Linked DNA regions of Homo sapiens: all the other regions are linked to region 1. The links come from fine-mapping of genetic effects on gene expression. A gene starts in region 1. Each other region holds a variant in brackets. All regions are shown on one strand. Distances are between the middles of the regions.

Region 1 (7,689 bases):
GATTTTAGAACCTGTTGCCCTTTGGAAGAAGAAAGGTCTAGAAGGGGCATGCTATGGGGATGGAGTAGGGATGACGTTGTACAGTTAGAGGGCAGCACAGCACTGGGCTCCCAGGGCCAGAAGAGATTCAACACAGGCAGAAGGGATGGGGACCCAGATGGAAGGGAGCACCAGAAAGCACTTCACAGACTCAGTAACATTGCCAAGCTCAGCAGCACTGTGCAGTTCATTCAGCGGCACCTGCCCTGGAGAGGAGGAGAATCACTCCCTGTCACTCCAGCCTGCATAGGTTGTTTGCTGCTGGGAAAAGGGCCTAGAGGCCCCTTTGAAAAGCATTCTTATGGTCCAGTATTGCTGGTGGAGCCACTGGTTCTGGCTACGCTGTGTCTGGAGTGGAATGGAGGAAGTTCCTAGGAGGAAGGGAAGAGGCTGAAGGACCCCTGGGCACTGACAAGGGGGGATTGGGCCAACAGAGATGCCTTTCTTCTCTCTCTTCCAAGAGGCTCAGAGTCTTTCACAGTGGTGATCAATGTAACCTCACTGAAGCCCAAAGTGGACTTATAGGAAAAAGAGAGTAACAAGATAGAGGCTTTCCTCATTCACAACCACTATGCCAGCTCTTTTCCTCCGCCAAAATCTGACATGCCGAGTCAAGCCACACCCATCGCTTTCTGGTGCTGTCTGGCTCATACTCTGAATATAATTTCATTTAGTTCCTGCAAATGCACATGTCCAACATCTCTCATCTTCCATGAGCCATGTGGCATGTGGGTCAAGGAAGCCTATTCTCTCCCTTCCCAAAGCCTTGTTAGGGGAACAGCAGGCCTCTTAGTGCAACAGATGAGCAAAGCCACATCTGACCATACATTAGTAACACATAAATAAAGCTGCAAGAGAGGAGGGATGGTGTGAGTCAGGGTCCCAGGATCCACCCATTCTCAATCTCCCCCACCTTTCTCTGCGTCAGGGCTTCCAATTAGAATGCACAGAGATGCTGGCACTCACCCAACTCATTCGTTGAAAACCAACTAATGACAAGTCAACTCAGTCAAAATGGTGGGCCAGTTGAGCTTTTCGGAAGTCACATTGTTATAAATATAAACACATGTATAGCCACAGCCTTTCCCCTTTTCTAAAGACATGAAATATTGAAACATTGCAAGTACTGATCCAGGTAAATGCTCTTAGTCGTGAATGACAAAATCTCATTGAGTAGGCCTTATATGATAAGGCAAGATTAAACATGAAAATTCAGGGGAAGGTGCTGCAGAAAGGCCAAGCTAGAATCGCCCTCTGTTACTAATAACTGGGCAACTGAAATCAATGTGAATTGCAATCTAAAACTCCCTTGCAGTTTGTTTGAGTATTTTCTCTTCAAATCTCCCCCTCTGCGTGCCTTAGTTTTACAATTTAGAATTTCATATATCTAAGCTTCTAAATGGCCAAGAAAAAAGAAGTGTTATTCAACCCGATAAAACTATGCCTTTCAAACTTGAGTTCTAATTCATGATAGGGGTGGGCCACTTTCAACCCCTATCCTCTGATCTGCCACTTTTTACATGATTTCTTCTTTATTCTCCAGTTGTTTTTCTGCTTTCTCTAGGACATCACAATCACCAGCACAACTCGCCATGCATGAGGCTACTCACTCAACCAAGATGCTATATGATTTTGGCCCTCACTCAATGTACTCACACAGGGAAGTGTTTCACACACACTCACTCAGCTTTCAGTATAAGTTACATTATTAGAAACTTTTACTTCAATTGTCTGATCACTTGGAACAAAGCAAGTTTTTTGGATTTAGTTTCTTCTGGTTGACTCATAGTGAAATATGGATATGAGACACTCCCTTATATGAATAAATTAGAGGGCAGGGCTGGGGTTGGATATAAATTATTAGTTGTGTCACCTTTTACAAATGACAGCAAATGCCTTGTTTTTCCTAGACTTGACCCTACAAAAGTCAAAAGCTGCAAAACTCTATGTCACATCAGCAAACAGTCAAATCATGCCCCAACCATCATCACCAATTCTGAATTGTTCTCAAAGGCTGTCACTGTAAGTACACAAATGTAAATGCTTGTGGAATCCCTCGCTGAATATGTATAGACCACTCCCAACTACTCTGGAAGCCCTCTGAGAAGAAGAAACCTCTTGCACTTTCTATAACTAACCTTCCCTCTGCCCTACAAGGCAAGGCGCACAATAGGTATTCAATCAACAATCATTCATTGATTGACTTATTATTTTTACCAGCAGGCATGGGAGAGAAACGGAAAACGTGTTAAAACATTTTGCATTGTAAATTATCAGTTAAGAAATTAAGGCTGTGGAAAAGAATTACACTAGTGTAAGGATCACTCAGATAAAGAAAGAATTGTGGTGTGAGATTATTACTGCGCTGAAAATGCTCACTGTTCATATTTGTCAGAAAGTGACAAACATTTTCTAAAATCAAGCGTGACCAAATTGGCCTTTGTTTCCCCCATTAACACAATAAAAGGGGGTTTAGTCTTCTTCGACAGTCTATTTCGAGTGCGAGGGGTTTTCCCCCTTTTCTTGTCTTTTTGACCCTTTGAACATAATCCACTTAGTTCCCCGCTTCCTAAAGCGCCTCCCACATAGCGGTTTGGGGAGCGCTCTGTGAAGCCCCGGCTGAGACACTTATTGGAACTTTGTTCCCCACATAGGCTATTTAGGAGCGTCTCGGTTTCCTCGGGTGACTCCACAGCCTTCCTGGCTCTTCTCACGCTGCGAGCAGGAGTCAAGGGCGGTGCGGTGCTCGGAGGGGGTCCGGGGGGCGCTGACCATGGTCCTGGCCTCGGAGCTCGGGACGTGAGCGCAGAAGGCGCGGGCGGAGGCTGTAGGGAGCGGCCGTCCGAACCCCCGCCCCTCCCGACCACCGGGGAGCCGCGGGCCTTCACGCAAAGCCTCCACCGCACGCTCTGAGCCGCTCAAAAAAAGGGTGGGGCACCCAGCCGCAGCTGCAATCGGAAGCCGCCCGGGAGGGTTTCAGAAGAATGGAACCGCGGCCAACCCCCTCCCAGACGACCACCGCCCGCCCCAGCAGGGGATCAGCCCATTCCCTATGCCCACGCCCCACCTCTCAAGCTCAAGGAGACGCGGGCAGCCTTTGTGGGCGCACGGCCGCCCACCGCCCAGCCCGAGCCTCGCCGCACCCTGCGCGGAGAAGGGGCGGGTAGGGCGGGGTGCGCGTGCAGATGCGGGAGGCGAGGTCCAGGGCGGGGCATGAAGGCGGGCGCGCCGGGCTCAGGGGCGAGGGAGGGGCGATCCCCGCGCCCCGTCCTCCGTCTCCACCCCCAACCCCCACACCGACCTGGTCGTTGATGTTCTGCAGGGCTTCTTTGCCCGAGGCCCTCCGGATCTCCACCTTCCGGCCCGATTCAACAGATGGCTCTCCGCCGGCGCGCCGGCCCTGCCGCGAGTACGGCGGCTGCGGGTCCGGGCCCAAGTGGGCGACGTCCCGCTGCTGAGCCACCACCTGCCCCGAGCCCCGGCCCACCGACAGCGAGTCGAAGTCGATGGTCTTGTTCTCCGAGGACCCTTCCACCGGGCAGAACATGCCACAGAATTTCTGCCGGGGCTTGGGGCTGCCGGAGCCCAGGTTTTTAAAAAAAGCAGGGACCTCTTCGTCCTCTGCCGCCTTCCCGGATTGCTTTCTCTCGGCCATGGCTCGGGGGCTCGGGTAGGGTCCTCGCCGTCCGTCCGTCCGTCTGCCAGTCCCTAAGTCTCCCTCGCTGTGTGCACAAGCCCCCTAGCTGCTGCCGCGGCTGCCGTTCGCCGCCCACCGCAAGGTGCACAGAAAGGAAGGAGGGCTGGCGAGCCGGCGACCCACCCTCCCGGTCCCTCCCCCTGACCCCGCTTCTCCCCTCCCTGCCCACGCCCCCCGCGGCTACAGCGCGAGCTCGGGGAAGCGGCAAAGTTGGATCTGGGAGGGCGTCCGCTGCGGCTGCGGGAGCCGAAAGGCTGCCAGTTCCCGGCAGCGCTGGGAGGAGGGAGGCGCGGGCGGGGCGCGGCGCCGGGGAGGGGAGCGGTGCTCAGGGGAGGGCTGGAGGGGAGGGAAGGAGAGAGAGAGGGGAGGGCGGCACCGCCCCTAGCCCCGCGCTCCGGAAGTGAAGCGGCCAGACCACCAGCTAATGGATGCGGAGCGGAGGGCCCGCTGACCGCTCTCCGCGCCTGGGTAAGTATCGGGCAGGGCACGCGGAGTGAGGACCGGAGGACGCAGCCCCCAGCCCCAGTGCCCCTCTCCTCCACCTGCCTGGCCCAGGCGCCTCTGCCCCGCCGCATGGCGGAGGTGGGCCGGGGGCGAGGGCGCACTGTGGATAGGGGTCCCGCCCCGTTACCCTGGGTGTGAGCTGATGGATGGGAAAAGGGGACAAGCCGGGCGCCAGGCTACTCAGGGTGTGGGAAGCGGGATGGCACTGAAGATGAGCAAGGATAGCACAGGCAGGGTGGACAGGAGGGGGGCAGCCAAGACGCTGGACACCCCAGCTTCAGTTTGTCCACTCGCCTTGGCAGGCTGCAGGGAGCAGAGACTGAAACGAGAAGGTTCCCGCTTCGTGCATCCACTTTGGTGTGGTTGGGGTGACGGGGGAGTGGGGGGGGGGCACACAACATGGCGGGAAGAAATTCAGAGGGGCGTAGCAGATGGGAGAGGAATATAGAGAGAGACGCAGGTCTGCGGTCTATGGGGGTGTAGCAAAGAGTGCAGTCGGGAATTCCAGCCCAGGGCCACGACTTAAAGACGGGGTGCAGACCGACTCTATTGCGCAAGGCGCCATGGACCGTGTCTGCGCCACTGCGCCAAGAAGGGCGCAGGAACGTGTCGCGATTTGGTTTATTCTGCTTCCTCCACCAAAAAAAAAAAAAAAAAAAAAAAAAGAGAGAAAAAACAAACTGAAACCCCCTTCCCAAATCTCCAGCTTTCCCCTGCGCCCCAGAGCCCCGCCTGGTTCCCCCGCCCCTGTTGCGCACTGCGCCACAGTCGCAGCGTTTCCCGGGTTACCAGATGCCACGTGTTTGGGGAGTAAGTGCGGGTGCGCATCTGGTGCGGAGTAGGAGGTAGGATGTGGGCTGTGAGTGCCATGAATTGTGTGGGGCCAAGCAGGGGAAAGGTGTGTAGGAACTTGGTGTGTGTGTGCAGTAGCTGAGCCACGGCCACCGGGTTGGTAAGTAACCAGGGGGCAATTAGATTTGTGTGCCTAACACGGTCAATGCTGGTCCTTCATTGCTTATTCCCATCTCCACGTCCTTTCCGCGTATCAGTCCCTGCCTCTGCGCGATGACAGCTCCGCCTCTCTTTCCACAGTGGCAAAATCCTGCAGAAATGGTGCCCCTCCTTTGGTGGCCCGGGAGGGAGTTCTGGGCATGCTCAGTAACCAGGGTGGGTTTGGGCTGAGAGGCCGTTTACCGCAGGGCCACCGCGTAGGGCCGTGTAACCAGGGATCCAGTCCCATTGTCAGCCCAGGATTAAATGCGGTTACCAACCACCCCCACAGTCCAATTGTGAGAGATAGTTTGGTGAATATAGTTACATCTGCTGGACAATCAGTCGCAATTTGAAGATCAGCCCATCTTGATAGGTGGAAAGGCGTCTCCGGATGAGAAACAGACTGGGGAAGAAGAATATAGGAGTGGAGGGGCTGAGAGAACCGGAGGGGGCATTTTGGACTTAGCGGCAGATGTGCTTTGCATTTGAATAAAGCATTTGAAAAAAGCGCTTCCAACTGAATTACATCATTTCCTACTCACAGCCCCACTGTGAGATGCGTGCCTTATCAGCACTGCTTTCCAGGTTAGGAAACAGATTTAGAGAGCTTGGGGCGCATAGCCAAGGTTGGGTATTTAGTTAAATGATCCAGCAATTCCAGTGGGAGTCTTCCACCTCAAAGTCTGGCTTCTTTTCCAGCTTGTCCTGTGACCCCCTTTATGTGAGAAAATACAAGGTTCTTCTATTTCTACCGTATCCAGATATTTCCATCCATGGCCCTATTGTATATCAAGGGTGTTTCTTGCCATGTTTTTATTTGAAGGTAACACTGCAGGTCACACTGGGAGGAAGAGTCATCTGAAGATAGCCTAACTTCAGCATAGCAGTCATTCTGTAGACCATAGAGATGCTTTTTCCTGGGCAGTGTCTTTTTACATTCCCTGTTTCCTCTAAATATCCCAGTGGGGAGGAAGGTTGCCCCCAGCTGGTTTTTTTATTTTTGTTTTTGTTTTCAGACAGAGTCTCACACTGTCACCCAGGCTGGAATGCAATGGTGCAAACGCAACTCACTGTAGCCTTGACCCACTCGGCTCAAGCAGTCCTCCCTCCTCAGCCTCCCAAGTAGTTGGGACTACAGGCGAGTGCCACACGCCCAGCTAATTTTTTTATTTTTCCTTTTTGTAGAGACAGGGTCGCACTATGTTGCTGGTCTCAAACTCCTGGGCTCAAGTGATCCTCCCGCTTTGGCCTCCCAAAGTGCTGGGTTTACAGGTGTAAGCCACTGCACCTGGCCCTCCCCCACAGTCCCCACATTTTAGAAAGGAAAAGTCAGGCATGGAGAAGTCAGCAGTCTCAGGTCTCTGGGGCTCCTGGGCACAGGGGTGAAGCAGCATTTTGCCCTCCTGGCTCTCTGGCACCCCTGGTGCCTTCAGCACTTCCCAGAAGACTCAGGAGATCTTCCCACAGCAGGAGCACTGCTGATAGAGTTACAGGACAGCACTGTGGCGTATGGCCCCCATTCGAATTGATGAAGATGTTTAGGCCAAGGGGGAAATGGTTGTAGCCCCTTAACACACACTCCGCAGCAGTAACTGGGAGGTATTAGGAACTCTAACTTTTTTTTTTTTTTTTTTTGAGACAGAGTCTTGCTCTGTTACTCAGGTTAGAGTGCAGTGGTGCAATCGTGGCTCACTGCAACTTCCGTCTCCCAGGTTTAAGCGATTCTCCTGCCTCAGCCTCCCAAGTAGCTGGGATTACAGGCACGTGCCACCACACCCAGATAATTTTTGTATTTTTGGTAGAGACGGGGTTTGGCCATGTTGGCCAGGCTGGTTTCGAATTCCTGACCTCAGTGATCTACCCGCCTTGGCTTCCCAAAGTGCTGGGATTACAGGCATGAGTCACCACGCCTGGCCAACTCTAACTTTTTTACGTTCTCTAATCCTCACAGGTTCTCCAGAACAAAATCCTTGATAGGTGTGCTTCCTCCTTTTTTCTTTTTTCTCAAATGATGGGTTAAAGTTCAAATGTTAGGAAAGGCTGGGTGTGGTGATTCAAGTGTGTAATTCAGCACTGTGAGAGGCTGTGGCGGGAGGATTGCTTGAGCCCAGGAGTTTGAGACCAGGCTGAACAACGTAAGGAGACTGCGTCTCTACACAAAATTTAAAAAACTAGCCAGGCATGGTGGCATGTGCCTGTGGTCCCAGGTACTCAGGAGGTCGAGGTGGGAGGATTGCTTGAGCCCAGGAGAGATCAAGGCTACTACAGTGAGCCGTGTTTACACCACTGCATTCCAGCCTCGGCAACAGAGTGAGACCCTGTCTCAAAAAACAGAAACAGAAACAAATGCTTGGAGAGTGTTGTGTTAGTAACTTATTGTCTTAGTCTATTTTGTGTTGCTATAAAGGAATACCTGAGGCTGGATAATTTATAAAGAAAAGAGGTTTATTTGGGTC
Region 2 (7,689 bases), 140 kb before region 1:
ACTCGGCCCCCTCAAGAAGCTGGGACCACAGCCACAGGCCCCCATACCTAGCTAATTTTTAAATTTTTTGTAAAGAGGGGTTTCGCTATGTTGCTGACGCTGGTCTCAAACTCCTGGGCTCAAGCAATCCTCCTACCTCTGCCTCCCAAAGTGCTGGGATAAGAGGTGTGAGCCACCCTGCCCGGCCTCACATTCTTTGTTCTTCTCTTAAAACCTCACTGAAGTTTAGACTACAGAAGGGAGGTGGAGAGCAGGCATGGTGGCTCATGCCTGGAATCCTACTAACAGCACTTGGAGAGGCTGAGGTGAGAAGATTGCTTGAGTCCAGGAGTTTGAGAACAGTCTGGGCAACACAGTGAGAGCCTATCTCTACAAAAAAAAAAAATTAAAAAATTAGCCAGGCGTGATGGTGCAAGCCTGTAGTACCAGCTACTGGGGAGGCTGAGCTGGGAGGATCACTTGAGCCCAGGAGGTCGAGGCTGCAGTGAGCTGTGATTGCACCACTGCACTCTAGCCTGGGTACTGGGTGACACAGTGAGATACTATTATATCTCTAAAAATAAAAATAAACTTTTTAAAAAGGAGATGAGCCTAAGGTAACCAAAGAATCAGACACTGTATAAAGGTTGTTGGATCTATTACTGGAGAAAGTAAAACTATATACAAAATATCACTACATCTTAGACTCTGTCCTGTCCCCTGTTCTGATTAGTCAAATTGGCTGTGGCTTTTCTGAGGACATAGCCCTCTTCTGGCATTCTAATCCCCTAATCCTACACATATAATCACAAGTAGGAGGAACGATGGCACCTTATATTGGAACAGCTTTGAGAGATCAGAAAACACAGACATGATTATACACGTTTTACTTACAACAAAGTAAAGTTCCTTATTTTTAAATGTTTTGAAAACTGGTAATCCATATATGGGACATAGGTTACTTTCTAAAAACCCATACAACCACCAAGAAAAAAAATTCTCTCTGGTTTAACAATTTCTTTAATACGCCATAGGAATCTGTGGCCCAGGGAGCTGGAAGAGTGGAATGTTCTAGTCATGGGACAAATGAAAGATGGGAAAGAAGTTTCAAGCAAGGAAACTTAAAAATCTGAACCCTTTCCTCTCACCAAGGGGATATCACACAAATTACCCAAGCAAATACAACTAACAGTTCTCAAATGGCCCCATTCTAAGCACTGTACATATATATTAACCCATTTAACCCTCACAACAACCTCACGGGGGAGCAACTACTATTATTGCCATTATACAGGTGAGGAGACTGAAGCACAGCCAGAGCTGAGCCCTGAAGTTAGGCTGTTGAAACTCCAAACTCCACAAGCTAAACTACAATATACTGTAGGAGAGAAGAGAAGTCCTGAAATACCACAGTGTCCTTTCTTATGATGGACCTAATAAATTGAACAAATGTCTTCTTAATATATTAGGTAAAACACAGTATGGGCATTGTGTGACACAAACTGATCTCAAGATTCTGAAACCCAACCAGTCATTAACTATGAAAATACATCTCCAGGCCAAGCTAGGCTGGGCCCGGTGGCTCACACCTGTAATCCCAGCACTTTGGGAGGCCGAGGCGGGCAGATCACCTGAAGTCAGGAGTTCTATCAGCCTGGCCAACATGGTGATACTCCGTCTCTACTAAAAATACAAAAATTAGCCAGGTATGGTGGTGCATGCCTGTAATCCCAGCTACTTGGGAGGCTGAGACATGAGAATCACTTGAACCAGGAGGTGGAGGTTGCAGTGAGCCAAGGTCGTGCCATTGCACTCCAGTCTGGGTAACAGAGCGAGACCCTGCCTCAAAAAAAAGAAAAAGAAAATACATCTCCAGAGATCTGAGTCCACTGTATTTCTCACGTTGGAGAGAAAGGGAATATCATTCACTTCTATTTCTGTGTCCTTTCCAAATGCAACTGTAGCCTCGCCAGCACCAGCGAGCTGGCCCTGCAGAACTGTGCCCTCCCCAAGCCCCAACCCTACCAGACAAACTGAATCCAGACTGGTGCAGGTTCCGGACAGGTGGGGCCTGCTGCTTGGCAGGAGACGTCTTGGCCGAGGAGGCTGGAGTGACTGTCTTGGGCGTCACAGACACTTCACACACAGGTCCGTCATACAGGCCACGAGGAACCCCTCTCAGCTCAGCCAGCTGCAAAACACAAGAGTCCCCCCAGCTCAGGCCACAGCCACAGAGGATACCTCTCTAGAAACCCTCCTGGAGGGAGGATGGGCCTGTGAGATCTAGGGATGGAGGGCTCTCCTTACAGACAGGTGGACAGGTGTTGTGTGGGGCCAGCTCCCACCATGCCAGGCCAAAACTCCCCACAAGGTCCAGTAACTGGTTAACTCTACAAAAACTAACACACCTTACAATTTTTCCCCCAAGACACTTCAACTTTAAACCCTGTAAGAATCCCCTAAGCATGCTGTGAGGCGGATCTGGTATCATGTTCAAGATCTGGCCCCAAACTTTCTTTCCAATTGCATTCTCTCCTTTTAATTCCCTTATAGCTCCATCTCTTTCCTGCTTCACATGCCCTGAATACACTGTACATTTTCTATGCTCATGATACTCTTATCAAATTCCCTCATCTCCCTTCTTTGACTTGACAAACTCCTACTTAACCTTCAAAGCCCAACTCAAAATGTCCTCTCCCCATGACACTCTCCCCAACTACAGCAGTGGCTCCCTCCTCTGGGTCCTTACTCCACACTCCTTATCATAGCATATACCATGATCTCACTTTGCTAGGGCTCTCTGTGGACACGACTGACTCCTTCTCCAGTATTTTAAATGCCAGGAATAAAAAATTCAGGCTCCCTCTTATCCCTGGAATCCACTAAATTCATCTTAATATTCTGTCTCAAGGTGCTTAATAAATGTTTGTGGCCTTGAACTTAATTCGTGATTTAACAAAAAATTCATCAGAACAAAACTACTCACCCTGCTCCTTGCCTTGATACGCTTGTAAACAAAATCAGGGAAGGGCTTCCGGGGAATGTAGCGTCCAGAGCCTTCGGTGACATGCAGGGTGCCGTCCTCCAGGACAATCTTCCCCTGGCTGATGACCACCAGTGGGGAGCCGCGGCACTCCATGCCTTCAAAGATGTTGTACTCGAGAGACTGAGAAGAAGGCAAAGTAAACTCTAGAACAGGCCACTCTGGCTGGACTCAATCCACCCGGCAGCACCCACTGCCCCAACCCCACAGAGACAAAAGAGAGACTCAGAGACAGGGATCCTGTCCCAACTGGGCACCCCAGCAGGCACTTACTTGCTGTGTCTCCATTTCCCTGTCTAGAATATGAAATAACTTTTTCTACCTCTCCACATTAGAAAGAAAAATAATTAAACAGAATAATTGTGTGAAAAGGGTGCATGTTTGTAAATGCTACACAAATATAAAGAAAATGATTCTTCCTATTAACAGAGACTGTGTTCCCACCATCTCCAGCTCCATTCCGGTTGAATTCCAAAGGCCTTCTCTGACCAAGTTCTAAATTTAATCTTGAAATGAGCCATCCACAAGTAGGTTTTCCCACTGGCTAGCCTGGTTTTC[T/C]AGTCTGTTTGCGGTGTGGTTAAACTGAAGTCCCTAAATGAAAGGATTGTGGTCACTGAAGAGACATGCCTCCGATAAAATGATTGAGGGCTAGTTAATTTCCAGAACAATGTAGCTATGTAGCTATCCTTCTGGTTTCAAGTTTTTCCGGGTAAAACAGAGACATATCTGTGTGCCCTCTTGGAAAATAGGTGGGGTCTCCATATGGATGTGAGTTTGTGGTTGGTAATGAAGCAACAGAACACAGGAGTCATTGCACAGGAGTCATTCCATCCTGCAGCTTCTGCTAACCCAGTGCTACTTCCCAGATCCCAAATGCCTCCCGCTTCTTCCTGCCTGTTTGGTTCACGGGGACCAATGGCTGTGGCTGAGTCTGGACTAGAGGATTAATAGGTTGCTCCAACCATAAAAAGCACCCTGGGCTTCTGGGAAAGTTCAGACCAGGTTATCAGCACTCAGGGAGCTGGCCTCTGAACAGAGAGCTGTGCTAGCACCCTGCAGTTCAAGATGACATTTCTGCTTAGTGCAGCGGCTGGTAACACGGATTCGGCCAGCTCAGCAGCTCACATCAGGCATGTAAATGCACAATGCCCCGCATACAATGTTGGGTGAAAACAACCACGAGGGCTGTCAGTACATTGCTCTGAGTCTCAAAGCAGTCATGCAGAAGCTACCAAAGGAACCATAGCAGAGAGGCGCCAGCAGGGAGGGAAGAGGACTCTGCACTTGGATTACTGAGACCCAAGACTTAAAATTGTCTTTCATCAATTCTAAGACACTCATCCCTGAAGTCAGAATGTGTCTTATAGCAGCCGGAGCCACGCGGGTACTGCCAGCCTAGACTAAATCCAAGTTCTTCTAGGGGGATATGGGTTTGTTTGTGCCACTGGGTTGGGGGACAACCCCACTGAGGGCATTTTACAGTAAATTCTCAGCTTGACATTGTTCTGGACCACACAGGCGGCATGCATTCAGACCACAAGGCTGGACAAGCACCCACTTCCAGTTCCAATTCTTGGGGGAGACATTTTTCCCTCTTGGCAACCAATGCCAAGGTCGAGGCCTGCGAGATTTTCTGCCACCCCTGTCTGCACAGCAGATGGTCTCCCCAGAGATGCCATAATAAGCACACGCTGGCCCTTGGTGGCCCAGTCTCCTATGAGACTCCTCGTCTTGGGCATGTTTTCTTTCATCGTGGTACATAACCTAATGGAATATCTTAAAATCGATGGCATCTCAGATACGGTAAAATCCAGAAGTTGTGTGACTCTGGGGAGATTGCTTTAATCCTGTCTCAGCTTCAGTTTCTTCATCTGCACCCTCCCGAGGTGTATGTGAAGATGACAATACAAAAAGCCTCATCCCTGGTCATCTCAGAAACAACCTTTGAAAGGGTGTGAGTCATCCTTTAAGGCCTGGATCAAGAGCCATCTCTTCCACATCACTCCACAGCTAACAGTTTATGCCCTGACAACCTCCTCTTGTGCCCTACTGGGTAGAGTATGGGCGCAGCCTCGGCCATGGAGACATCTGCCCTGGGTTCACACCCCAGGTATGCCATTCACCAGCTATGTGACTTTGGATGCATCCCTCACACCCCTGAGCCTCCACCTCCTCATCTGTGAGGGGTAAGTAGGTCCCCCTTTGCAGGACTCATGTGAGAATCAAATGAAATAAAATGAACAAAAGCATCTAGCTCACTATTTGGCTCACAGTAGGCATTTAGAAAATCTTCACTCATTCACTGTCTGGCTCTTTATTGCACTTTGCTAACACTTGCCAGCCCTGCAGCATCCAAGATCTCACACAATGCATGCGTTGAGTCTTGTTGCTTATAAATGAGCACCTAGAAGACCTCTGGGGCCATCTATCATTTTTAAAAGATGGAAGAACCAGCCCCATGACTCTCAGTGACTTAACATTGACAAGTCCAAGGGTCAGATCACAATTCCCAGATACTCAGAGCCTACTCTCCATCAAACCATGATGCAGGGAGGCTTCCTCACTCACCATGCATAGACATTTTTAACCTACATCCACACAGGCTCCCTAAAATTACTCATCGGGCCAGATGCCTGGAAAATCCAAGCAAAGGCTTAGCAACAGGGCTGTCGATAATAGTTAGCTAGATGCTCTGAACTAAAGCTAATTAGCCTCATGGTAGGAAACACTGTACTATGCAGGGAAAGTCTCCTGGTTGCATTTTCCCAGAAGATGAACGAACAGGCACATGCTTAGTGCTGGCTCTTTAAAACAGGTGGGGATGGAAAAGCACCGCTTTGAAAGTCAACATTTCTTCCATAGGTCACCTGGAGGTAAAAGCAGGGTAGGTTGGGGTGAAAATGTCTGGAGGGCAGAATCTGTCTTCCCAAATCTTCTCTCCTTCCCACTGTCTCGTCTTCTAGGTTAAGAACTCCAAATGCAAGTTCCCCAGCTAGGTCATTTGTGTCTTAAATAACGAGCCCAGCCAGCCATTTATAGCACCTCTGGGGGAAGCAACCTTGCAAGAGAGGGGAAGCATTTTCCCCGTCTAAGCCTGACCAAGAGGCTGCATATGCAGTCTGGCAGGGAAGAGTCCTGAACAATTTTGGGTTCTAATTCTGGCTCAACCGCAAAATCGCTATGTAACATTAGACTGGTCACTTAAGCTCTCTAAGCCTCCGTTTATTTATTTTCCCAAATTGGGATAATAATACCAGTCCCTTTATTGAGAAGGTCAAATGAAAGAGTCAATGAGAATGTGAAGTTACAGGCACATGAATAGGGAGGTTCATGGGGCAGGGCCCTAGGATCCCTGACCATAAAATAGCCAGTCAGGACACCCAAGAAGTCATGATCTGGGCTGTAAGGGGCGCGATCATAAGGCTGCGCTGCCAGGCTGAGCCAGTGAGTGGTGGTGGGAGAGGGAGAAAGACAGCTTTAAACACAGACTTGAACAGTCTTCTGAGAAACACCCACCACCCTGGTCCTCACAGGTGGCAGAAGCCAGAGCTGAGCCTGAGCCCATTGCAGCCCAAACACCTCTGTGTGTGCAAATGAGAGAGGACTGGGACAGGGCAAAGTCCCAGGGTTGTCCCGGAGAAATGCCAGAAACCTGCCCTAAGCTGTCGTGGTGTGTGGGGGAGGTGTCAGTGCTTGCTGGCCTGAGCTGTCTTCAAGATTCAAATGAGTTCCTGACACGAAACTCTTCTGCCCGAGGCCCATTTCTTTTCCAAAGCTCTCCCTCTGGGCATATTCCTTCAGTTTTTCTGCCTATACCATGTTGCTTGTGAGGAATCGGCAGTGTCTAACAACTCTGCTTAATGTCTGCTGACCTCACAGAATCACAGGACACTTGGAGACCTCGTCTGAACCCCTCACTCTCAGCTGAGGAGCGTAAGACATTAACAGACTTGCCCTGGGTCCTGTTAACAAGAGAGGACATCTCTAAGCTCTAAAGCCCAGACCCAGAGGGAAGAGATACCCAAAGCGGCAGATCCTAAAACAACAATCAAATGGCTGGGGGGTACTTCTGTTAGGGAGAAGTCAGTCAATCAATTCCTTTAAGATAATAAGAATGGCTGTCATCCAGTTTTCTGCATGGATACTGGCCTGAGAAAACAATGGCTTAAGAGGATCAAAGTCCCCAGTGGGCATCTCAGGAGAGGACATCTCACTGCTTCATTGAGGTCCCTTGCACCAAGTACTGCCATGAGAAGTGCTGTGCCAACCTATGAAAATGGAGCGGTGCCTGACTTCTGGAAGCTTTGCACATCCTGACATCACTTTAGAGGCTCTAAAGGTCTATAGATAGAGAGGCTGTGGTATTCCAAAATGATTATGAGAGTAACAATCTTATTGACCTCACTAAAGAAAATGAAATAACTATTCTTTTCCCAGCAAATTGCAAATCATAACATCCTCAGTCGAGCGCATTCCCATCACAGCAAGTTCTTTTTAGAAACCCTGGGGCTCTCCCTCCGTCTGTGTCTCTGTGACTGTAATTCGTTTGGATGGGGTCTGCACAGTTAACAGGTCTTACGCTGTTGTGTGTCTTGGCAGAGATGGTTTTAACGCTGTCGGGGTCCCAGATGACCAGGTCGGCATCGGATCCCACAGCAATGCGGCCT
Region 3 (7,689 bases), 81 kb before region 1:
TAAAAGAACCTATTTCTTTTCTATGCATCAGCTTCTCCAGTCCATCTTTCATTAAAAGGACTTGCCATGGAATGAAAACTCATATTTCAGGACTAAGATGGACAACAGGCCTTCTCCAGCTCTTCTCTGAAAAGTGAGCTTTTCGGTAGAGAACGAGCTTCCTTCACAAGAAGGGCACTCCCGCTGGGTGTGAGCCAAACGCACATGCACGACACTTGCGCAGCTAAGAATACGCACAGTGGGGAAAAGGCACAGAAGCAGCCCCCGTCCTGCCCGAGTGCCACATCCCTTTCTGGGCTTTCATTCCCCCACCCCCACCGCCTGCAAAATGAAAGAAAGATTGCAATAAACAAGGTGTAAGTCTCAAACCTGCTCTTCACCTGGAGCTTGTAATCAGGTGTCAGGCTCCCATCCACCCACAAGGAACAGAGAGATTTTGGTGTTGAAGCTTCAACCTGCCCTGCGAGCCAATCTTTATTTCAAAGTACTTTGTGCTGTAAGCTAACGGGAAAAAATGATCAAATGCCTCAAATCTCCCGTAAGCAGGGACTGTGCCTGGGGGGAAAGGTGCTCACCAAGGTGGGGGCACATCGGGTGTCTCCTGGTGCTTTCTGCTGGCACTAACATTCTAAAACATGAAGCATTAAGTACAGCAACATGGATCTTCCTTTTTTAACATGGAAAATACGTTTTCATAGAGCAGGAGGGAAAAGAACTCTCTAAAAAACAGAGCTGAATAGGCTTAGCAAGAAAAGAAATTCAGGAGATGGAGAGGAGGAGCTCTAAAACATCCACAAAAAAATAAACCATTTCATAGCAATGCTGACCATTTTAATTGATTCTCGACGACAGAAGAACACAAGAAAAGGTAGATGATGTAATGCGATGGCTGCTGAAGGCAAAAGTCACAAAACAAATTTAGCCCTTCGAATACCACAGTAGCCACGGGTCAATATAAAAAGCTTCAACGGTCAGGAGCAAAACTGGGGTGAAGGGGCTACTCCCCCATACATGTAATTTGTCCAAGCCCTGCCATAGCCACCACCTCCCTGGATCCTCAAAGCAACCCTATTATGCAAGACATGCTGATCCAGGTGCATCTGACGATTCAGAAAACCAGGACCAAGCCGTGGGGCACCGAGCCTGAGCTAATAAGCAGCAGAGTCGACCCTGGCACGAAGGTCTCCCAGCTCCATGAAGATGCATCATCAAGAAGGTTGGGCCTCAAATTCTTTCCATTACACTTCATGTTTCTCCCTGGATTATCTCCATAAAGGAGAAAAACAATACCCAGAACACAATTCCAACTCTGAGAAATTGTCTGATCTTCCTCCTTGTCTCTGCCCCTCAAAAAAAAAAAAAAAAAAAAGAGGCCAGGTGCGGTGGCTCTTGCCTGTAATCCCAGCACTTTGGGAGGCCGAGGCGGGTGGATCACAAGGTCAGGAGATCGAGACCATCCTGGCTAAAACAGTGAAACCCCATCTCTACTAAAAATACAAAATATTAGTTGGGCGTGGTGGCGGGCGCCTGTAGTCCCAGCTACTTGGGAGGCTGAGGCAGGAGAATGGCGTGAACCTGGGAGGCGGAGCTTGCAGTGAGCTGAGATCAAGCCACTGCATTCCAGCCTAGGCAACGGAGGGAGACTCTGTATCCAAAAAAAAAGAAAAGAAAAGAAAAATGCCATCTGCCCGTGGTGTTTCCCAAGCAGACATGGGAGGTGCTGAGCCTAATGAACCTCATAAAAGCCCACGCCAAAGCGATTCAGAGAAATGCAAAAGATGAGTGCCAGGCAAGGGCAAGGCAACCTCGGAGCAGCCTACGTGACAGAAATCAGCTCAATCTGGCCCCGCATGGAAGAAGGCTCCCGGGCCTCCCAGAAGAAGGATTAAGTTCAGTTGATGAATGCATGGCATCAGTTACTCCTCTTGATTGCTCTCCAAATCCCCCTCTGGGATGCAAGGGGAGATCTAGGGCATCAACCCAGGGCTTCTGTAGGAGAGAAGAGACACCCAATATACCACCGTCTTGGTGAGCATCTTCCATGCTGGGTGCAGCCTCCCACTTAGTAGGAGACGTATGATATCTGATCATTTTCTGCCTATATATTACAGAAAAAGTACTTTTAAATAACAGGTGGATGGAAGGGCAGGATAAAACTTGAACACCAAAATCTTTCTGTTCTTCCAGGATGGATAGGAGCCCTGTACCTGAGGGCAAACTCAAGGTGGGTGCTGTGTCTGGGATTGTTGTAAAGCACCTGTCACAAGGCTGGGCACAAAGCAGCTTTCATGAGCAGGCTGTCTAACTGCTACAAAACAAACGTTCCTCTCGCATTCTAGGATATGCAAGGGCCATTGGCCCAGAGCTTGGATTGGAATCCCAGCCCTCGCACTTGCAGGCTCTGTGGCTTCAGGCAAGTCATTTCACTTCTCTGGACTGCTCATTACTTCATTTATAACAGGAGGATAAGCCTATCTATCTTCGGGGTTGATGGAAGGATTAGAAATGGTGTATGCAGGGCTTGCGTCCCACAGATTCCCGATAAATGATATCAATTATCTGCTCCCTCCAAACTCCTCACTTTCTTCTAACCATCTCTTGTGAAAAGGACAGAATCACACAACTCCTACCCATGACTCCCGGCAGGTCTGTGGAGAGGTCCAGAGAGCAACTGCTAGGGTCATCCCCTTCCCGAGCTCACTGGAGGACAAGAGGACTCAACACGTGTCCTTGTGTCCTTTAGAGTGACAGATGCCTGGGTTTGCCTAGGACAGCCCTGGTTTGCACTGCTGTCCTGCAATCATTTTTAGTAGGATATAGAAGTGTATTCGTTTGGACAAGAACCTAAACGTTCATCCTACAAAGAGGGCTGAAGCCCCATCTAACTGTGCAAAGTGACACAACAACACGCCACCAATGCTGTGCCCAAGCTGTGGCTTTCTGCCCAGTTTCCATTTAAAACTCTGAAGCTAAAGTTGCACTTCCTCCAAAAGATTAGGTCCTCCCTCACTGGGCTCAGAGTTAGCTCCAAAATATCTGTCAAGGCCTCAGGGACAGTTTCCTCATTCAACTCTCTCCTTGCTTTAAGGATGGACCCATCCTACCTGCTTTTTCATCCCCTGTGATTTCTGCAGCTAATGAGCTAAGGTACTAAATAAATAAATAACAGTAATTAAAAAAAAAACAAACTCCCAGCTGAAGCAAAAAGGCATGAGATATGCCTGTCCACACAAAGAAGCTGCTCGCCTCTGCCAGAACTGGCTAATAATGGGTCCTCCCTTTGCTTTCAGTTCTGCTGGGTCCATACTATCCCTTGGTTTGACACTACAAAAGAGGAAGGAGCCACCAGCCACACCCGGCTGGAGAGAAGAGAGCTCTGCCCTCTGCCAGGCCTCTCCCACGCTGCACTGCTGGGCATGGTAGGCCCTACATGACTAAATGCTTCCTTAGCCGAAACACCCACTGGGGAAGAATTTGTCACCAATACTTCCAGCAGCACGACCCTGCAGCCCTGCCTGGAAGCTCAGCAAACTGCAAGGCAGCGGGGAAGAGGGC[A/G]GAGGTCTGGTTCAGCGAGGAATGCAACCCCCCTAGCAGACAATGCAAGGAATCCACCATGAAAAACGGAGGGGCTTGAATTCAACAGCACAGCAATGGCCACTTATAAAGTTGGCCTCATTTGAATGCCAAAAAAGGCTGAAAATTCAAAGATAGCAAGAGTTATTGATTTGACGGGCTGTTTTCTGGGAACACTGCTTTACATCTGCAGGGCCAGATGTGTTGTCAAGAAAATCAGGCTCCAAATTCTCCAGAGATTATTTGGAGGAGGAAAAAAAAAATAGCGAAAAGTAAAATTTTTATTTTCTTGCATAAGAAGTCTTCTTACAGGATTATAAGCCCTATAAGCTACATTATACCTTTTTTTTTAAGATGGGGTCTCACTGTCTCCCAGACTGAAGTGCAGTGGCACAATCATAGCTCACTGCACCCTCAAACTCTGGGGCTCAAGCAATCCTCCTACCTCAGCCTCCCAAGCAGCTAGGACTACAGGTATGTGTCACCACGCCCAGCTAATTTTTTATTTTTATTTTTAGTTATTGATTGATTGATTGATTGATTGATTTTGGTAGAGACAAGGCTTCACTTTGCTGCCCAGGCTGGTCTTGAACTCCTGGCGCCTTCAAGTGATCCTCCCACCTCAATCTCCCAAAGTGCTGGGATTACAGGCATAAGTCACCATGCCCAGCCAATAAGAAAGCTTCTTATACATCGTTGTTTTTCCTGCTATGTTCAAAACGCAAACTCATGTACATAGGCTTGAAGTTGAAACAATCCTTGAGACTTCTTCCTGATCTCACTAAGTGACAGTGAAGTGAGATAACCCATCTGGAATCAGGTGGCATGCAACTGCATCTTTGGTATATGAAAGATGAACAGATGAATGGTCAATTGATAGATTAGATAAACAATAGATATATACAGATAGATTAGAAAGATGATAGATTAATGATAGATTAGGATAAGTAAAACAGATAAGTGATAATCAATAGATATAGAGACGATGGATTAAATAGAGATGATAGACCATAGGTACAGACAGATGTCATATCAAGATAGATATAGACCAGATAGATATATATCAATATATAGATAGATTAGATAAATGATAGGTAGGTAGGGAAATAGATAGATGGTAGATTTGGTAGACGATCATTTCGTAAGCTTCTGGAGGCCACCTGGCTATAGAATTCACCTATCCCAGGTCATGCTAGATAGATAAATATATATTAATAGATAGATAGAGATAGATGATAAAAAGATAAAGATGGATACAGACAGGTGTGAGAGAGAGAGAGAGGGAGATCTTTTCACACTTGTTCCAAAGGTGTCACAATGATTACTTTCAAATAGTATGGCACAAAAAAACTCACTTTTTCCATAGTCGTAAGACATAAGAATTGATTGTCTCCACTTTACACATGTGGAAATAGCCATCTAGAAACACATTAGGATGATCACGCTCAGACAGAAAGCACTAGAAAGGGAAGTTAAACTTAGATCTGATTCTTGGAGCGCTCCCATCCTGTCCTGTTGAGTTACTTACAATCCCATCCTCTGAAGCCTGGTCCAATAAACCGTGCCCAGCTGTGGGAGCGGGGCTGGGAAGGAGGTGAATGGCTGCCTTAAGAGTCCATGATTCTATGTTATTATCAGGCCCTTTTGATTTTTGTCTCACAGGCTCCCCACAAGGAAAGATTCCAGTCCTGACCTATCATTAGAGAGTGATTAGGTCATAAACACTACAGATTCAACCTAAAGACAGTAGGGTTTTCTCAGGGAAACCAGCACAGCAGGTGGCCACAGGCTGGGGACAGCAGTCCACATTCCAGTTCCCCTCTGCCCCCGGCACCCACCCTGTCCCACCAGCCAGCCCTGCTCTTGCTCATCACCACTTACTCCAAGTCCTAACCAGTGCCCTTTTAGGGAATTAGCCAAGTAAAACCTTCCCGAACACCAAGGACAGCAACTGAAGGAGGAGGCTCTTTCTGGTGACAATTAGCTCAGCCCCTCCATGGTTAAGCTTCTGGGGAGCATCTGGCTGTAGACTCCACCCTGGCCAGATAGCAACAGTGTGATCCCACTCCCTTCGTGAAGAGGACAGGACAAAGCAGGGAGCAGAGGGCAGCTCTGGGTTTCGGAAAATCTTGGCAGACATTCATTCGGTTTCAACAGAAGTCCAACTATCAGAACAAGCACTGGGATCCATGATTCTTAATCCCAGCTATCACCTTGAGGCTTTCAAAACGACCAATGCCAGGCCCACCTAGAACAATTAAGTCAGAAGGTCTGGTCTCTGCATTTTGTTACAACTCCCCAGGGGATTCTAATGTGCAGTCAAGGTTTTTAAACCACTGCCCTAGTTCATTGCAAAATTCTCTTAACTGGACAGCAGCCTCAGCCACCGCGACCCAACCCCCAGCAACATCCTCTCTGTCATTAGGGGGAACACTTAGTCATATTCAAAGAAAGCTACCTCCCAAATGGGTTAACCAGAAAGAACTCTAATTTCTACTCACTGTCACTCCCCTTTATCATTACCATGGCAGTTAAGACGCTCTAAAAGCAAGGAATTTAAGCAAATGGCTTCACCCAACAATCACGGAGAGTCAAAGACAGAACCCTCAAAACCTAAAGAAATCAGTAATCACTTCTTAAGAAGAGAGAAAGGTCAGCTTGGGGAGGAAGAGGAAAAAAAAAGGGAGAAACAGCCCTTAATGGGTGACTTGGGGTCAGAGCCATGGATGGTTAAGTCAGAAAACACAAATCCCTTGGCCACCCACAGTCAATCTTCCCTTTAAAACTAATGTACCGGCCGGGCACAGTGGGACATGCCTGTAATCCCAGCACTTTGGGAGGCCGAGGCGGGTGGATCACCTGAGGTCAGGAGTTCGTGACCAGCCTGACTAACATGGTGAAACCCCATCTCTACTAAATACAAAAAAAATTAGCTGGGCATGTTGGTGCATGCCTGTAATCCAAGCTACTTGAGAGGCTGAGACAGGAGAATGGCTTGTACCTGGGAGGTGGAGGTTGCAGTGAGCCAAGACTGCGCCATTGCACTCTAGCCTGGGCAACAAGAGCAAAACTCCGTCTTAATAAAAAAAAAAAAACAAAAAAAAAAAAACTAATGTACCAAACAGGCACAGTGGCTCACGCCTGTAATCCCAGCACTTTGGGAGGCCAAGGCAGGAGGATCAACGGAGGCCAAGAGTTCATGACCAGCCTGGGCAACATAGCAAGACCCCATCTCTACTAACAAGTAAAAAATTAGCCGGGTGTAGTGGTGCACACCTACAGTCCCAACTACTGGGACAAGAGGATTGTTTCAACCTAGAAGTTCAAAGCCGCAGTGAGCTATGATCGCAACACTGCACTACAGCCTGGGTGATAGAGTGAGACACCGTTTCTAAAAAATAAATAAATAAAACTCTCTGCACCATTAATTTTTTTAAAAAGGGCAGAATGCTCACCTATTATGGGCTGTCATAAAAAGCTAAGAAAACCAACCCAAACCTAGGCAGGGAAAATGAAACAGGTGCTCTACCCTGGTTCCTGTCTTGAACAGAGAGAGGGATATTAAACGAAACTACTAAAAACTTACAGTGTGGTTAGGTGTTTTCTTAAGCGACTCCGTGGGTATATGCCTGCTTACTAAACACCCTTTCCCCTACAACTCAACACGGAGGCTACACCAGGACCAATCGCATTGCAAGCTTTGCAGGGGAGGTGGGCAGAGGGGGAGGCAGTGCCAGGATGGGTTGGTTTCCATCCTGTGCTTCCCCAAGCTCTGGGATTCTCCAGAGGCAGAGGGGCTGCCATGGGGGGATGACAAAGAGAAAGCGGAGAGGATCTGGACTCCCCCACAGCCCACCTGCCACCCACCATTCCAACCAGAGCAGTTCTGCATTCATCAGTCTCATATCTCAGGTGGAGGGGGTTCCACGCAAGGTTTCACATGAGAAAGGGTTGCCCCGGGACAACAATGCTAAAGCTATCATGAGTAGAAGGAGTAACGGGTCTGGCTCCCATCAGACTCATTGGGCAGCTTCTCTGGCTGCCCCCACAGCCAGCTCCAGGCATGCAGGGGCCTTAGGAAAATGGAGAGGCCACGATCGCTGTCCTCAGAAGTCT
Region 4 (7,689 bases), 130 kb before region 1:
CAAACAACACACCCTCCCTATAGGATCCCAGACATCCTGAAGGCTTCTGTCTCCTACGTTGCTGATTTTCAATTCCATTAATCTCCTGCTCGGATGGTGTCCAGGCATCCGGTCCCAGGTGCCATCTGGACTGTTCTTTATGCATGGCCTATGGCACCTCAAATTTAACCTTCCTGTTCATTCACACAATCTTTTCACAATTCCTAGCCCTTCACAGTGTCTAGCTCTGACTAAAGGTCTGCGGGAGGAAATCACACATGACATCACCAGGGCGAAGTATTTCAGGGCAAATACATAACCCCCCAGATATCCTCAAGAGACAGCCTGGATCCCTGAGTCACTGCCTGGAAGAAGCTGTCCGTTACAGCCACCATCTTCACAGCTGACTCTGTGAGAGAGAAACAAACTGGACATTATGCCACTGGGATTTCAGAGTTTCTGGAAGCCTAGCCTAACTATATTAATGCAATGTCCAAGACAAACATCAACTCCCTGATGCTCAGATCATGTCCTCTTCTCTGTCCATTCAGATGTAAACCAGAAAGTTGAGACTCATGTACATTCGCTGAATGCCAATACCTTAGTGCCTTCAATACAATCGTTCCTTAAATCAGGCCCTCATCATCTCTCGCCAGCTCATTCCAACAGAGCCTCCCAATTGGACCTTAGATTTACGTTTGCTCTCCCAACCCCGCTTCCTACCTCTCCATTCATTCCGCATGACACTTCCAGAGTGATCCACTATAATATAATCTTTCCATGGCATTCTCTTGCATAAAATCTTCCAAAGGAGCCCTTCTGCATTCAAGGACTTAAAAGAAAATCCTCCTCACCAAAGCATCAGATGCTCTTCACTACTGGAAGCTGATCTCCTCCTTTAACATCGTCCAAAACACAACTCGGGTCTCACACCCTTCACCTGAGAATCCCATCCTCCCCTCCAGTCATTGCCCAGTTCTGAATTTTTGACTTTCCACCTGATGGAGACACCTTGAAGATCATTTACCTGCCTGCACATAGTAGGCACTCCAAAAACGTGTGTTAAATTGATTAAATGGTCTAATATGTTATTAATTAAAGGCATCCAAGCTGGAATTTGATCCCAGGTCAGCTGAATTCATCTCTCACTAGCTCCCCCCAGCACAGGGCTAACTCCCACCCCACAACAATGCAGCCAAGCTTCTCTACTTCCCCAAACACAGGGCCCTCAAGGGCAAACACACCACAGTCAGGAATGTGTTTTCCTTCCTCTCCACAGCCTTTCCGAAGGCCTTATCACTTGATGATACACCACAACACCCTCCCTGTCGGCCACTCTGAGAGCTGGCTCTGCACAGCTGCCCCCTCCTGCCTCAGGAATTTCACAAAGGACTCGCTGTTCAGCTGGGGAGTGCTGGAGGCCACAGCAGGCAGCTCACTCCAGGCCACCAGCAACCACGCCCCCACCCCCAGCAGGAGGGAGGACTCCAAACCCAGGGAAACCTCCTCCAGAAGGAAGCCCCAAGGAAGAAAAGGGCCAGTGCTAGGTGCTCGGAAGGCCTAGGAGGGTCCCCTTGGCTCCTGGCCTGCTCAAAGTCTCCCATGCAGAAGCTGGTGCAAAGAGCTATCAGGTGGCTGCACAAACCACTCCGGTTCATCCCGAAGTGGAAAAACACCACATAATGAGAAGGCCTTGGCCGCTGCCAAAGACCTTTATAAAATGCAAATGGCTGGGCAGGACCCAGCAGCAGTCATCAGTTCTCAAAGGATCTCTCTGGCTCCCCGCTTTTGGTTCAAGGATCAAACAGATCTGGTTAAGCAAAACTCTCCTGACCCAGCCAGGCCTGGAGGTCCCGCTGGCCACAGTCCATCTAAGCACAAAGGTGAGGGCTGTGTAAGTCACAGGAAAACAAGAGATGCGTGGCCCTAAAGGCTTCCTGCTTTTGTCCACATGAAGAAGTTCATGAGAGCAGAGGCACTTGGAGATAAAGAATGGCTGGATAGTCTCTGAAAATCCCTGGACACACATAAACATTTTCCTGAGTTTCCTGTAACTTGCCGACGCTCATCCTCTCCCTGTGCCTGCTCCTCGGCCCTGCCTCTAGAAACTTAAGTACAAGGAGGGGCTGGTTCTTGGAAAGTGGCCTGAATACCATGGGGATGAATGCTGCTGACCACAGGCTTATCTCTCCCTGCGAAACACAACTCAGCTTGGGGTGGGGAGCTGCTCTATGAGGAGCTGGATTCCCCTTCTCTCTGTGCACAGGAATATCTACCTCACTTCAAGAGAATGAACTTGGCCTTCTGCCTCTAGAAAACCCAAAATGGGGTCTGAGCTCTCAACGCCACTGCTGAGCAGAACCTGCCTCTTTAGACAAAGGCTGAGTGGACTTCTGGGCCACAGCTAAGCAAAGATAGGGACATTCAGGGGCAGGGGCAGTGGATGCCAGGGGAGGGATGGAGCCATCCTGTGGTTCATTTCTACTTTGCTCTGTTCAACTTCCCTCAGGGATTCAGAGGTCCTTGCTGTCTTTTGGATTTTCTTTCTTTCTTAGCCCAGAATCAGCGACAGGAGTTTAGCCATCATGTTCCAGGCCTCTACCTCCACAAGAGTATGATCTATACATAGAGTCTCTGCCTCCCATCCCCAGTGGTCTGGAGCTCCCAACCCAGGGCTCCCCTCCTGGGTCTATAAACATTCACAGGAGGGTGCTGTGGATGCACTTCCGGAGCTCAGCCAGGCCACAGACACCCTTGAACTGCATGCCAGAAATAATTACCACTAATAATAATAAACCACGAAATGGGCTTAATTGGCCCTTCTGCACTTCTCTAAATACACTGCTGATGCTATCTGGGTGCCCGTTAGACCTTTGTGATTTTCTTCTCCAGGTAAAGTCTAAACTGAAGGATGTGACCAAGCCAGCCTCTGGCAGGCTCTCTATAAGGCCAAGAACTGCAGGGGATGGGAGCTGGTGCTTATTTACAACCAGTCTGGGGCCCGTGTGCATTCATGAAGAATAAATGGAAGGCTGCGGTTTAAATATGCTTGATAGCTCCCAGCTCTGGCAGTCATTTCCCATGGACGAGAAGCAGGAGAACAAATCCAAAGTGGGAACTGTGGGAAATCAGTATCTGTAGCTCCATATGCAGCCACCAAAGCACAGTGAAAACCAACTGGGATGGACAGACAGACAGACAGTTACACACGCTCTCACCATTCTCCTTTGCCTTTCCAAGAATT[T/C]ATGCCAGACCCTAACAAACAGCCTGGGGACTGTGCTGTCAGGTTTTCGTAGCAAGAGTGGTTCTAGAAGAACATCATCTTAAAAATGAGTTTTCTGAATGGGTTCTGAGGTTTCTGAAATTCGTTCTCAGATCTGATTGGGTTGAAAGGCACTAATGATTCTACGTCCAGTAGTAAAAAGAGGAGAGTACAGGGCATGATGGGACAATAGAGACACAGAAAATATTATTAAATACTCCCAAAGGCTTCTAAGAGGCAAGGTTCTAGGTGGGTGTGTAGCAGATACCTTAAACATTTTTGTAAAATTAACAAGTATAACGAGAGTGGTTGGTTGCTCCTAATTGTACTAGACAAAGTGGGGGAAAAAAGAAGAATGAATTCAGGGATTCAAATTCCCAGCTCAAGCACCACATGAATGAATCAAAAGTTTCTATGTCTGCCCTTATGTCCCATAGATGCAGAGCTGAGATGGCTGAAAACCAGAAGTAGGATCTCATCCTGGCAGTGGCTGAATTACAATGCAAATTGAATTCCCAACCTTGCAGACCATCTGCCGTTAAAAGTGAGGGCATAGATTGGGAAGGAATTCTGCCTTTGGACTCCGATGCCAACATCAGCTCTTCCTTGGTTCTCCAGTCTGTGGCCTGATCTGCAGATTTCAGACTTGCCATCCCCACAATCGTGTGAGTTGATTCCTTAAATATAATTCTTTAAAATAAATCTTCCCCCTTTCTCTACTGTCCTCTCTCCTCTCTCATCCCCCTTTTCTGTTCAAGATTGCAACATCAAGCATAAGCTTAACTAAGGACTCATCCCCAAGCTGAGGTGGTCCTCACAGGCCCTGCGACCATGTGCTTCTCATAACGTTTGAGTCACTCCTATTGACCCACAGGACATAAGAGGTCTTATCTCAAATTGAGGTTCCCAGGGTTTAATGTCCTGAATGTTTCTGCACCCGGGTTATGGGAGAGGGGTGAGGAGGAGGACGGAAAAGAATGTCCATCAGATGAGGTCATCAGGCACTGCCCACGGCCACCACTCACACATGGAAGGCATCAGCAGTCATGCTGGATTTCACACATGGACAAAATGTGGTCAGAGGGAGCCCATTCTAGAGAAGAAATCCCCACAAGGGGCCCTCCATGGAAAGAGAGGTGGCCAGGAGCCTGGAATCATGGTTTCTAATTCCCACAGGCTACATGAACCAGGGCAAGATTTTCAATTTCTGCATTTCTACTTCTTCCATGAAATGAGCCTATTAAGTTGATCAATGTCTAAGTTCTTTTCAAGAGTAAAAATGCCCCCAGGTCGTCTGGTCCTGGCTCTGTGTTCATTGCCTCAGCTGCCAAATTGGGTTGATGACACACCACTCCCCGGCTGAACACGCCATCCTGCTGAACAGCCACAGAGCGGCTGATGGAAGCAGCGTGTCTCTCAGCGTGTCTCTCAGGGAAGGCAGGATGCAGTCGTGCTGGCTCAAGCAGGCACGTGAAAACAGTTCTCATTCGTTTCACCTCATATCCTCACTTCCCCGAACTTCTCTTGTCTTAGATTCTGGACCAGCAGGTCTTGGCTGGGGAGGTTCATGTGGATCACTAAGAGAAGGAGACATTACTACTCCTCCCAGGGCAGGATTATCATTTTTCAAAGCTCACATTTATAGCAAAATTTCGAGTCTGCTTACGCAGCCTGACCTCTCTGAGACTCCCTTCTGGGCTCAACCTCTCCTGACTTGTACCCCTTTTGTAGCCCCGACTACCTCCCAATGTGACTTTCCACTCAGCATCCTTCCCCTGCAAGTCGAGGAGCTAACTGTGGTTGGGACCATTTATTTTCCTGGTACGCAGGCCTAAAGTATCACATCATGAAAATGCATTCAATGAATTCAGAATCTCTCCATTCACAGAGGAAGAAATGCAGCATCAGAAAGGGGGCTGTGGCAGTGCACACACTTGCCTCAGGGGGCCAGAAGAACCCACCTGAAGTGGACAAACAATTCTGAGCAGAAAACCCTTGTCCAGGGTCAGCAGGCATCTTTACTCTGCTTTCCTCGCAAGCTCAAGGTTAGACCAGCCCCTTCATCCTGTAGTCACAATAACTGGTCACGCTTCTCATCTCCATCTTTACCTGCAATATCTCATGTACACATCATCATCACCCTGTGAGATGAGTCATGGTTACTATCCTCCCCTTGCAGATGGCAAAAGGACATGTGGAGATGATGAGGAAGCACCCAGCATCACGTGGCTGGTGTACAGTGGAGCTGGGGTTTGATCCAAGAATGAATACTGATCCTGGAGGCAAACAATTAATACTCCCTTACAGAGCTTTCCTTCTTGGTCATTTGGGAATCCTTGTGTGTACATTACCCATATCTCTGCTGGGTGTCAGGCCACTGTTTCAATCAGGATTCTTAAGGAACTAAGCCCCAACAGACACAGGTCACAAGCATCACCGTATTAAAATAATCTCAAAGCATGAAGGTAAGTCAGTCAAACATTTACACGGATATTTGTGGCCTCAAGTTAGATGCCTGACAGTCAAGCCCCAATTCCACTATACATGAGCTCTGAGCTTCAGTTTACTCAGCTGCAAAGTAAAACAAAATATAAAAATTCCTGCCAGGGCTGCCTCCCAAAGTTGCTAGGAAGTTCCAGCAAGATGGGAAAGAGCCTAAGAGCCTAGGAAGTTAGCTAGGACTTCTCATTCCTGCTCATTAGCACCTGAATGCACTGGAAATTCCTTTCTGGCAGCTCAGGTTTGTCTAAAGCTCAGGCTTTCACAGATTAATGGGTAACAGTTTGAATGCAAATGCCATCCTGGGAACCATGGTGTGGGCACATTTGGACTCACACTCAGAAGGCTCTGGAAGGGAACAGACTAAAGTCCCCTCCTACTGCTCACCCCATAAGACACACAGTGTGTCAAGGTTATAAAGACAATAGGGGTGGCCAGGTGCAGTGGCTCATGCCTGTAATCCCAGTATTTTGGGAGACCGAGGCGGGCAGATCACCTGAGGTCAGGAGTTCCAGACCAGCCTGGTCAACATGGTGAAACCCCGTCTCTACTAAAAATATAAAAATTAGATGGGTGTGATGGGGGGGCGCCTGTAATCCCAGCAACTAAGGAGGCTGAGGCGGGAGAATCGCTTGAGTCCAGGAGGCGGAGACTGCAGTGAGCTGAGATGGCACCACTGCACGCCTGCCTGGGCGACAGAGTGAGACTCCATCTCAAAAATAAAATAAAATAAATTAAAAAAAACAACAACGGGGGCTACCAGGCACTGAGTTGGGGTAATAGGTCCAAACTGGGCACCGCAACAACACACTCCAGCTCCGCAACTCCACCTGAGAAGAACCCTGAGGGACAGAGAGGAGGAGGCCTGCGGCAGGGCTGGCCCACGACTCCACCTCCCCCAACTAAAGTCTGGGACATGTAGGACCCCTCCGTCTTCTCATTTGGACAGGTTTGAATATGAAGTAAACTTTAGACAAGGTCTCTATCCAAAATTACGTTGAAATGTTAGCCTAACTCACGTATCATCATCATCTAGGTACAGCGCAGTAGTAAAATACAGAAAATAAGCCGTCTCATTCTTTCCCCCTTTCAGACACTATGCCAACCATCCCCACACTACGTGGGGGCAGCAGTGCTGTGGCCGGCCTTCTGTACAGAGGCTGATTCCCACAAATGCGCTGCCTTCTTGCAAATGCGTGTCTGGGTGGCCCAAGGCCACCGATTCCATCGTCATCCACAATATCTCCTAGAAAACAACTCAAAGCTCATTCTGAGTAGGTTACATTATTTTAGGTGAATGCTTTCTTATTTCTAAAAGGCAATTCCTTCAAGGTGCCAGGAGAAGACAGAAAGGCAGCAACCATTTGATGTGTAGCCTAAGGACAGAGGCCCCAGGAGCACTCCAAAGAACCAGGGCCAGGAGTCGCTGGGTCCGTCTGGAAGTCATCATCTCTGGGACAAGATGACTCAGTCATCATTGAGCAATTTGTTCCAGGGCTTGCAGCAAGTCACCCGCCAGTGAAAAAAATCCCACAGCCCACCTTGATCCATGTGGATTGCATGATGCAGGGAAGTAGAAACCAAGCCATAGAGGTCAAATGGCTCCCTTCCTAACAGGGAAAGAAAGACACAGAGAGAGAATGACAGAGGGACTGAGAAAGAGTCAAATGAAAGATAAAATGAAACAGAAATCAGGAAAGAAGGGAAGAGAAGTGGAGACACAGAGATGGAGAGATCCCAACAGGCAAAGGGGAGGAGGGAACATAAAAGGGAGAAAGGAAGGAAGAAAGAAGGGGACCCTTTTATAATGTTCATTTCAGATCAGCCTAAGATCCACCATCAAAATGAACGACATGCCCTCAGGCTTTCTGTACGAGGAGAGAACTCCCAAGCATAAAAGATGCAGTGTGATTATCGAAATTCATGTTGTCAGCGGTGGGTGACAACAG

Direction of the effects. Positions count from the first base shown, and alleles are read on the strand shown. Sizes are in standard deviations (SD) of each study's normalised expression. Not every link is listed here.
For the expression in skeletal muscle of the gene that starts at base 3,989 in region 1, T is the high allele of the variant in region 4 and C is the other (small effect, 0.14 SD a copy in GTEx).

The links. PIP is the estimated chance that this variant, and not a neighbour inherited with it, causes the effect. A credible set is the group of variants that fine-mapping cannot tell apart.
Region 2: its variant is the best candidate, but not a certain one, in a credible set for the expression of DPYSL2 in whole blood (TOPMed, PIP 0.62).
Region 3: its variant is the best candidate, but not a certain one, in a credible set for the expression of DPYSL2 in T cells (TOPMed, PIP 0.51).
Region 4: its variant is the best candidate, but not a certain one, in a credible set for the expression of DPYSL2 in skeletal muscle (GTEx, PIP 0.82).

What each region holds. Positions count from the first base shown.
Region 1 is chr8:26,510,331-26,518,019 of GRCh38, reverse strand. It overlaps DPYSL2 (dihydropyrimidinase like 2), which reads right to left and starts at 3,989. Exons shown (of 14, transcript NM_001197293.3): 1 at 3,341-3,989. The coding sequence starts at 3,694. It overlaps PNMA2 (PNMA family member 2), which reads left to right and starts at 4,148. Exons shown (of 3, transcript NM_007257.6): 1 at 4,148-4,204. RefSeq lists enhancers at 5,034-5,906, 5,693-5,987.
Region 2 is chr8:26,647,713-26,655,401 of GRCh38, reverse strand. DPYSL2 (dihydropyrimidinase like 2) reads right to left here. Exons shown (of 14, transcript NM_001197293.3): 11 at 7,602-7,689; 12 at 2,966-3,145; 13 at 2,005-2,170. Among named protein-coding and RNA genes, the nearest start is that of DPYSL2, 140 kb to the right of the region's middle. The variant T/C (reference allele first, on the strand shown) is at 3,581.
Region 3 is chr8:26,591,456-26,599,144 of GRCh38, reverse strand. The region is part of intron 3 of DPYSL2 (dihydropyrimidinase like 2); the gene reads right to left. It overlaps LOC124901916 (a long non-coding RNA gene), which reads right to left. Exons shown (of 2, transcript XR_007060865.1): 2 at 3,816-7,689. Among named protein-coding and RNA genes, the nearest start is that of DPYSL2, 81 kb to the right of the region's middle. RefSeq lists a silencer at 7,071-7,120 and an enhancer at 7,333-7,689. The variant A/G (reference allele first, on the strand shown) is at 3,556.
Region 4 is chr8:26,635,525-26,643,213 of GRCh38, reverse strand. The region is part of intron 8 of DPYSL2 (dihydropyrimidinase like 2); the gene reads right to left. Among named protein-coding and RNA genes, the nearest start is that of DPYSL2, 130 kb to the right of the region's middle. RefSeq lists enhancers at 4,765-5,729, 5,730-6,694. The variant T/C (reference allele first, on the strand shown) is at 3,224.